Linked DNA regions of Homo sapiens: region 1 is linked to region 2. Evidence: fine-mapped expression QTL. A gene starts in region 2. The other region holds a variant in brackets. All regions are shown on one strand. Distances are from middle to middle. Region 1 overlaps PIK3CB (phosphatidylinositol-4,5-bisphosphate 3-kinase catalytic subunit beta). Region 2 holds the start of FAIM (Fas apoptotic inhibitory molecule).

Region 1 (4,000 bases), 130 kb after region 2:
CAGGTGTGAGCCACCAAGCCCAGCCTAAGCATATGAGAATTTTAAATCACAATACAAAAAATAGCTATCATTAACTGAACACCTAAGTACCTAAAGAAATGAGTTAGATGATTATTGTATGTTACAGCTAATCTCATTACACTCATTTAACATATTAAAGAAATGAAACTCAGAAGGGTTAAGTTGCACACCTAGTATCTGTAAAACCTAGATTTAAACCCATTTGTCTAACACTAAAGTCATACTTCAGCCATACTTTCAGCTTGGCTAGAAAAGCTGAATACGTGGTTCGCATGTGGCAGATTCACACTTTCTATGGATCCCTGAGATGGCCCCTTTCCATCACAGAGCTCTAGGCAAGTATTACCAGCCGTCTTCCCATCAAAAACCTACCGATCATCCCAGTTTGATGTTCTATTTTCACAAAACTAGAATGACTCTCCAGAGGCATATAAGAAAAGGGGTGATTATTCATATTACCAAAGATTCCTAACAAAGTGAATAGGAATCCAATGTATTCCTCAGAAGAATGAATTTCCTATACAGATCCAGAGTGTGATTCAATGTATCGTAATTCAATTCAGAACCATTAAAAATACATTTTTGTCAGAGAAAAAAAACTTCCAGAATGTCTCTCAGAAGTTATATATGATATTATGATAAATATATTCATCCAAAAACTTTTCACTATGAAAGATCCATTTCTCTCACATTCCTTTGCCTACACTGTATATTCTCTCTCTCTCTCTCTTTTGTACAGGGTCTCTCCTGTCTAACCCTGCACAAAAACACATACATGCTTCTGTTTTTCTTTATAATAATAGAGGATAATGCTGGTAAAATATACATTCTCCTTTACACCTCTTAAGGTAAAAAGAAATGTTAAATTAAAGAAACAGAAATCTACTTGAATGATGGCAGAACATGAAGAAAAGTCAGTACTTCTATGTTGCCCACCAAGCATTTTTCATCTTGTTTCTTCTTATGGACTAGAGTTCAACAGCTTACTATCAGAATACCACAACTCCCAAAGCTGTGCACATAAGTTATAACTGCTCCTGGACCTTATATGTACTAAACCACAAAAATTGAGGGCCACACCAGAAACCTGAGAAGAGGTGTAACATCATGTTATCTGCTAATAAATTGCAGCTCCATATTCTCAAACACATATTACTTTATAATTGGCATGCCTATACCCCTCTTGTTTAAACAACAACAACAATAATATCACAAAATAACAAGACTTTCCTAAAATTCTGTAACTACTAACCTCTAACTGGGCACTTATAATAATATTCCTTACATAATGACTATTTTTTAGTCTCCAAGATATTTCAACAAAAACATCTTCAAGTTACTTGAAGGCAAAGCCAAGGACCTAGTCTTTAAACAGTATACCTTATAGGGAGAGGGGTGCTGCACTGCACATAGCATATTTAAACTCCACTTTACTCCAAAAATAATCTGGGGCAATTCAGTGCCGTATAGAAGCATATTCTCAAAGAATTCTTAATTAAATGAAAATAAATAAATACCCGAATGATTAATAAAGGCTTTTGAGAATGGTCAAACCTAATGCCTGCAAAATTCTTGCCATTCATGGAAGTAACAAAAAAGGGGCAAGGGAAATTCCACGCATAAATATTTCAGACTGGAATTGAAAAGTTTTCCTTTAGTTAGCTAATGGATAATCACAAATAAGTTTTTATACAATTCAATGGATGACCATTTAATCGATTTTTAAATACTTTACCTCCCCCAGAATATTTCACGTTTATACTATATGATGAAATAGAAAGCAGCTATAAGTGTTAAAAAAATTCATAATGATATAAGACAATAATTATAAGGCTAACTAAAACAATCAAAACAGCCGAATGAGCCGGGCACAGTGGCTTATGGCTGTAATCTCAGCACTTGGAAAGGCCAAGCAAGTTGGGCGGATCACTTGAGGCCAGGAATTTGAGACCAGCTTGGCCAAGATGGTGAAACCCCATCTCTACTAAAAATACAAAAAGAAGCTGGGCATGGTGGCGCACACCTGTAATCCCA[A/G]CTACTCGGGTGGCTGAGGCACAAGAATTGCTTGAACCTGGGAGATGAAGGTTGCAGTGAGCCAAGACTGCATGCCACTGCACTCCAGCCTAGGCGACAGAGCAACACTCTGTCTCAAAAAAAAAAAAAAAAAAAAAAAAAAAAGCAAAGCAGAATACAAACATATACATACACATATTTGTCTGTACAATCATTATGCTAAAATACAAACATAACTGCAAAAAGTGACAAAAACATGCCAAAAGGGTAACAATGATTATCTCAGAGGTAAGTACTATTATGAATATTTACTATTTAATACTGTATAATTTTCTGTATATTCCAAATGTTCCAGTGTGGGAACACATTTTTAAAGTCAGAAATAAAATATATATATATATATATATACTCATAGACTTTTCTGGTAAATTAATAGTTAATATACATACCTGGAACTGAATTAGTGGATGATCACCAAAAACATATTCTACTCTCCCGCTGACTTGCAACACATAATCATAGGGGCTAACTTCATCTTCCTTCCCATGAATAGTCAAACGTTTTTGGATTGCCAATTCATTTACTTTGATAGGATTCATATTAGGAGACACTTGAAAGCTAAACACGTCCTGAAGGGGGAGGGAGATGGGGAAAAAAGCAGTAAATGTTATATTTATGCTGAAAAATCACATTACAATCATTATGTAATAATATGTACAAATGTACATAATATTTATATGGGTACATCCTTAACAAATTTTATATGGATGCATATTTAGAATGTAGACAAGTTTACTGAAAGATAAAGATTTCTGATAATTTGAAAGTCATCTTACTGTATTCATAGTGCACAGCTTCCACAGGTAAGATTAATATTTAACTAAAGGTTACCATTAGGCATTTTCCAATGAACATCTCATCTTTTTTTTTTTGAGACAGAGTCTCACACTGTCCCCCAGGCTGGAGCGCAATGGCTCGATCTTGGCTCACTGCAACCTCTGTCTCCCAGGTTCAAGCAATTCTCCTGTCTCAGCCTCCTGAGGAGCTAGGATTACAGGCGTGCACCACCACGCCTGGCTAATTTTTTGTATCTTTAGTAGAGACAGGGTTTCACCATGTTGTCCAGGCTAGTCTCAAACTCCTGACCTTGTGATCCGCCTGCCTCAGCCTCCCAAAGTGCTGGGATTACAGGCACGAGCCACCATGCCCGGCCACATACTGCAGCTATATTTTGTATATATATTTTTAAAAACTTACACATTTCTCACTGGTAAGAAGACAGCCATACTTTATACGAATTAAACCATAAATTAGCAATTACGTCCAATTTTAGAGACATGTAAATAGAAACATATAGAAATTCTAATCAATTAAAAATGAAGATATAGTTTGGAATCGATATAGCATTACCAAATCTGTTCATCATAAGACTGAATGATACAGTTAACACCTGAATCCTCTCATAATCTAGCAAGGTAATTTTTCATTATATGATCATATACTAAAGATATAAGAAGCTATCTCCCAAAGCAACCAACTGCTACTCTGAACAACTAACTTATTGCTATTCTCTATACTGACCTGACATCAATTCCATAATATTTTCCACTAATTTAATTTAAATAAATCACTCCCCTGAATTTAAGATGTCTTACATTCAAACTTTTAAAAACTAAACTTACTATTTCACATCTATTTTTTCCAGTATTTTACTTGTTCTTCTGTGTTTTCTATGAGTTGGTGCCTGCCATAGACTGAATGTTTGTGTCTCCCCTGGCGAATTCATATGTAGAAACCTAATCTCTAATGTGATGATATTTGGAAGTGAAAACTTTGGGATGTGATTAGGTCATGAGGGCAGAGTCCTCATGAATGGGATTAGTGTCCTTATAAAAGAGACCCCAGAGGCCGTGCACGCTGGCTTACATCTGTAATCCCAGCACTTTGGGAGGCCGAGGTGGGCAGA
Region 2 (4,530 bases):
CTGTAGGCAACACTGTCTCCTCCTTAAATTGAAAATCAAGGCCACCTAAGACACTACCCAGGCCTGCTCTTCATTCATTCATTCATTTAATAAATATTTACCAGAGCTAACATGGGCCTGCACGGTACAGATGTGAGACATACAAGAATGAGAGCCAAGCGGCCATGGTCTCTGCCTTCATGGATCTCAGTCTACTGTTAAGTTACACATTAAGCAAAAATTACACAAATTATTGCACACCCTGAAAGGGGCTAGGAAGAAGAATCCCTGGTGCTGCAATTTTTGTGTTTTTTTTGTTTTTGTTTTTGAGACGAAGTATCACTCTGTGGCTCAGGCTGCAGTACAGTGAGGCGATCTCAGTTCGCTGCAACTGCCACCTCCCAAGGTCAAGTGATTCTCCTGCCTCAGCCTCCTGAGTAGCTGGGATTACAGACGCATGCCACCACGCCCGGCTAATTTTTGTATTTTTAGTAGAGCTAGGGTTTCACCACGTTGGCCAGGCTGGTCTCAAACTTCTGACCTCAGGCAATCCGCACCTGGCCTCCCAGAGTGCTGGGATTACAGGTGTAAGCCACTGTGCCCGGCTGTTTTTTTTTTTTTTTTTTTTTGAGACAGAGTCTTGCTCTTCGCCCAGGCTGGAGTGCAGTGGCTCAATCTCAGCTCACTCCAACCTCCACCTCCCAGGTTGAAGCGATTCTCCTGCCTCAGCCTCCCAAGTAGTTGGGACTACAGGCATGCACCACCACGCCCCTCTAAGTTTTATATTTTCAGTAGTGACGGGGTTTTGCCATGCCTGCCTCAGCATCCCAAAGTGCTGGGATTACAGGCGTGAGCCACTGAGCCCGGCTGTTTCTTTTTGTGTGTGTTTTTTTTAATGAAACAGGGTCTCGCTCTGTTGCCCAGGCTGGAGTGTAGTGGTGCAATCACAGCTCTCTGCAGCCTCTACCTCCCTTCAGGGCCCAAGCAATTCTCCCACCTCAGCGTCCCAAGTAGCTAGGATTACAGGCCTGAGCCGCTAATTATTTTCTTTTCTTCTTTCTCATTCTCTCTCTCTCTTTTTTTTTTTTTTTACCATGTTGCCCAGGCTGGTCTTGAACTCCTGGACTCAAGAGATCCGCCACTCTGCCTCCCAAAATGCCGTGATTACAGGTATGAGCCACCACACCCAGCAATGCTGCAAGTCTTATGGGCCAGGATAGTGTAATCTAAGAAATGATATATGAAGAACTCTCACAATAGGGAAGAGGTGAGGAGTGTCCAGGCAGAGAGAAGAGCATTTGCAGAGGCCCTGGGCGAGAAGAAACCTGCATCCTTTAAGGACCTAAATGAAGCCAAGCAGGCAGAGGCTAGATCACACATGGGGGCTTCATGCCCACCTTAAGTAGTTTGGGTCTTTAAAAAAGGAATGAGACTCATAAAGAGGTTTTAAGGAGCGAATGCTATTGCTGCCATGAACAGATATTCCTTCCCCATAGCTGCAGAGCAGGCACAGGGCTGTTTTTGCCCGCCAGTATGTCCCCACCGTCTAGCCCAGAGCGGGGCCAGCGGCCGGCTCCTACCCACACTTGCTGGCAGGAAGACTGGACGCACTGCGGGACATGGTGATGTCCTGGGTTGGGGCTGAGGAAGGCCTATGCGCGGAGGGTGCGGCCTTCGGCTAAGGCAGAGGACCAGGGTTGGGTCCGTGGCGGCGGGAGGGGTGGCCTCCTGCGCTGGTCGCCCCAGGGGACCTGAGAGGCGCGACAAACAGTCGGCGCGTTTGGTACTCGCGCCTGCAGAGCTTTCAACCTCCGCGCCGGCTGCGCCTGTTTCTCGGCCAGGGGAGCAAGGCCACGCGGCCTACGCAGCCGAGTCGGAACCAACCGGTTGTTTGGTGAAACCTACCCCAGAGCCTCCCGCGGCCCACAGAGCACAGGTGAGGCAGCAGACCGGGTGGGGTCGGTGTCGCGCCTGCGCCCGCCCGGACGCCTCGGGCCCGCCCGCTCCGCACCCTGGAAACCCCTGCACTCAGCCCCCCGGCGTCCCCACGCTCTCGGCCCTGCTGCGCCGGCGGCGGCCATCTCTGGGCGGCGGCGGCGGGCGGTGTTTGCGCGGTCGGTGAGACCCGCGCGGGTGAGACGCTGGGTGAGTTCCGGACGCTTCCAGCCGGCCCGCCGGTGATCCCAGACCTCGGGGCGGGACGCGGCTCCCGCTCACCGCCGGCAAAGGTGGAGGTGCGGCGGGGCGCGGGGCGCGGGGCCAGCCCGGGGCGGTGCGGGGGCGTCCCTGCCTAGCGAGGCCCTGCCCCGCGACCTGCCGCACCCTCCTCCGGCCTGTTCGCGACCTCTAAAGATAATACTTCTCACTGTCGAAAACGTGGAACAGAAAGCAAGGAAGCAAGCAAAGCAGCCGTGCCGCTGCTCCCCAGAGACAAGCTGCGTTAACATGAGGGTGTATATTCTTCCAGATGGTTTTTCCTTGTAACATGAGCGGGGCTTGTTTTTGCAGAACCTGCATCATAAAGTGCTGAAACTCTCTCTCTCTCTCTCTCTCTCTCTCTCTCTCTCTCTCTCTCGACTCTCTCTCTCTCGACTCTCTCTCTCTCTCTCTCGACTCTCTCTCTCTCTCTCTCTCTCTCTCGACTGTACATTCCTGTGTGTCAGGTTGACTACCTCATCCATCCCTGACTCTTGGCATGGCTTTGGACTGTGATTTACTAAATGTAGTTTCTCCCTGATGGTGAGCGTACAAGTGGTTTTCAGTTTTTAGTTATTGCAAAAAGTAATTCATTGAGCATCGTTGTATCTGGGTTTTTGAGCGTGATCATTTCTGTAGAAAGAATCGCACAAGATTCGTTCTAAAACAAGATAGAATCCACGGTCTATACCACAAGGCTTCTGGTATAGATTGTGAAATGGCCCTCAGAAAAGTTATTCTCCTTTTTGTACCTCCAGTAAGTAGCATTTGGGAATACTTGGCTCGAGGAGCTTCCTGAGTGATTTTACTGGAGACCCCCCTCACTTCATAAGGGGCCGGCCCGGAGATGAAGATGTCAACACTTGAGTGTGACTTGCATTATTGGCTGGCCCTACCTGGGGGCCTTTGCTGAAAAGGGAACCATGAGCATCTTAGTAACTACTATCATCTAGTAATTTTTAAACTGACTTCGGTTTATCTTGAACGAACCATTTCAGTCCCCAGTAAGAATAAACCTAAGTTAAGGCAAAATTCAGGTGGATTAGATGAACAGTGGCAACGTGTTGGTGTTTAAGTCATGCTCTGAAACTTAGGTGTTGGGTTGCTAGGGAAGGGATTTTAAAAGATTGATGGGTACGTATGAGATACGCAAAAAGCTTTCTTTAAAGACATGTAAAAAGTTTCAAGTGCTTGGTATCATCTCCATCAGTGAAAGTAAGTGGAATATGGTTTTTCATCTTTTTAAATTTACATTTTAATAAAATATTTGCAAAAATAGAGGGTTTTTTGTATTTATCATTTTCCAGTTTGGTCATAGAATCTTGAAAATTAAGTACATGCATAAGAGTTTAAAAACAACAGTGGATTAATTTCTTGCTCCCAAGTTTCATTTTTTTATTTTTCAGACAGAATCTCCCTCTGTCACCCAGGCTGGAGTGCAGTGGCATGATCTCGGCTCACTGCAACCTCCACCTCCCGGGTTCAAGCGATTCTTGTGCCTCAGCCTCCGGAGTAGCTGGGATTTACAGACGTGCGCTACCATGCCCGGCAAATTTTTCTATTTTTGCAAAGACAGGATTTCACCGTTTTGTCCAGGCTGGTCTTGAACTATTGACCTCAAGTGATCCGACCGCCTTGACCTCCCAAAGTGCTGGGATTACGGGGTGTGAGCCATCGCGCCTGGCCACTTTCTCCAAAGTTTTAAACCAAAGCCTTCTTCGGCAGAGCTACGACCCTTCCTCTATGGCCCATTCTATCCTATGCTGCTTCCCTTTATAAGGACACTCCCACTGTTGTGCTATAATCATCTCTTGGTATCTCCGGACTCTGCCACTCTGAGGTTAGTGCCCTGCCCAGAGCCTGGTACATAAGTACCCAATAACTATTGGTATGCTGGATGAACTTAGAATATGACATGTGTTTATTAAATTGAATTTGTAACTTAGAGATCTATGTGACAGATATTTCTGAGTGAAGTGGAAATTGGGGACAAGGACAGATGTTATCATCTTTTGGTTACAGGTGCAGTTGCATCCCAAGAAACACTACAGCCAGGACACCTGCATTTTTTTTTCTTTTTTTGTTTTTTTTTTTAACAACGTTACTGAAATATAACTCACATACCATAAAATTCACCCATTTAAAGTATACAATTCTTTCTAATATAATTAACTTTTTGAAGTGGTAAAATATATACAACATAGATTTGCCATTTTAACAATTTTTTAGTGTACAATTCAGGGGCATTAAGTACATTCACAATAGTGTGCGATCATTGTCACTATCTATTTGCCAAACTTTTCAATACCTTAAACAGAAACACAGTAACCATTAAGCAATAACTCTGTGCTATGG

What was found. PIP is the estimated chance that this variant, and not a neighbour inherited with it, causes the effect. A credible set is the group of variants that fine-mapping cannot tell apart.
Region 1: its variant is the best candidate, but not a certain one, in a credible set for the expression of FAIM in whole blood (TOPMed, PIP 0.55).

The regions. Positions count from the first base shown.
Region 1 is chr3:138,735,224-138,739,223 of GRCh38, forward strand. It overlaps PIK3CB (phosphatidylinositol-4,5-bisphosphate 3-kinase catalytic subunit beta), which reads right to left. Exons shown (of 24, transcript NM_006219.3): 6 at 2,484-2,663. Among named protein-coding and RNA genes, the nearest start is that of PIK3CB, 98 kb to the right of the region's middle. The variant A/G (reference allele first, on the strand shown) is at 2,056.
Region 2 is chr3:138,607,023-138,611,552 of GRCh38, forward strand. FAIM (Fas apoptotic inhibitory molecule) reads left to right here and starts at 1,749. Exons shown (of 6, transcript NM_001033031.2): 1 at 1,749-1,915. RefSeq lists a silencer at 1,837-2,296 and an enhancer at 2,397-2,486.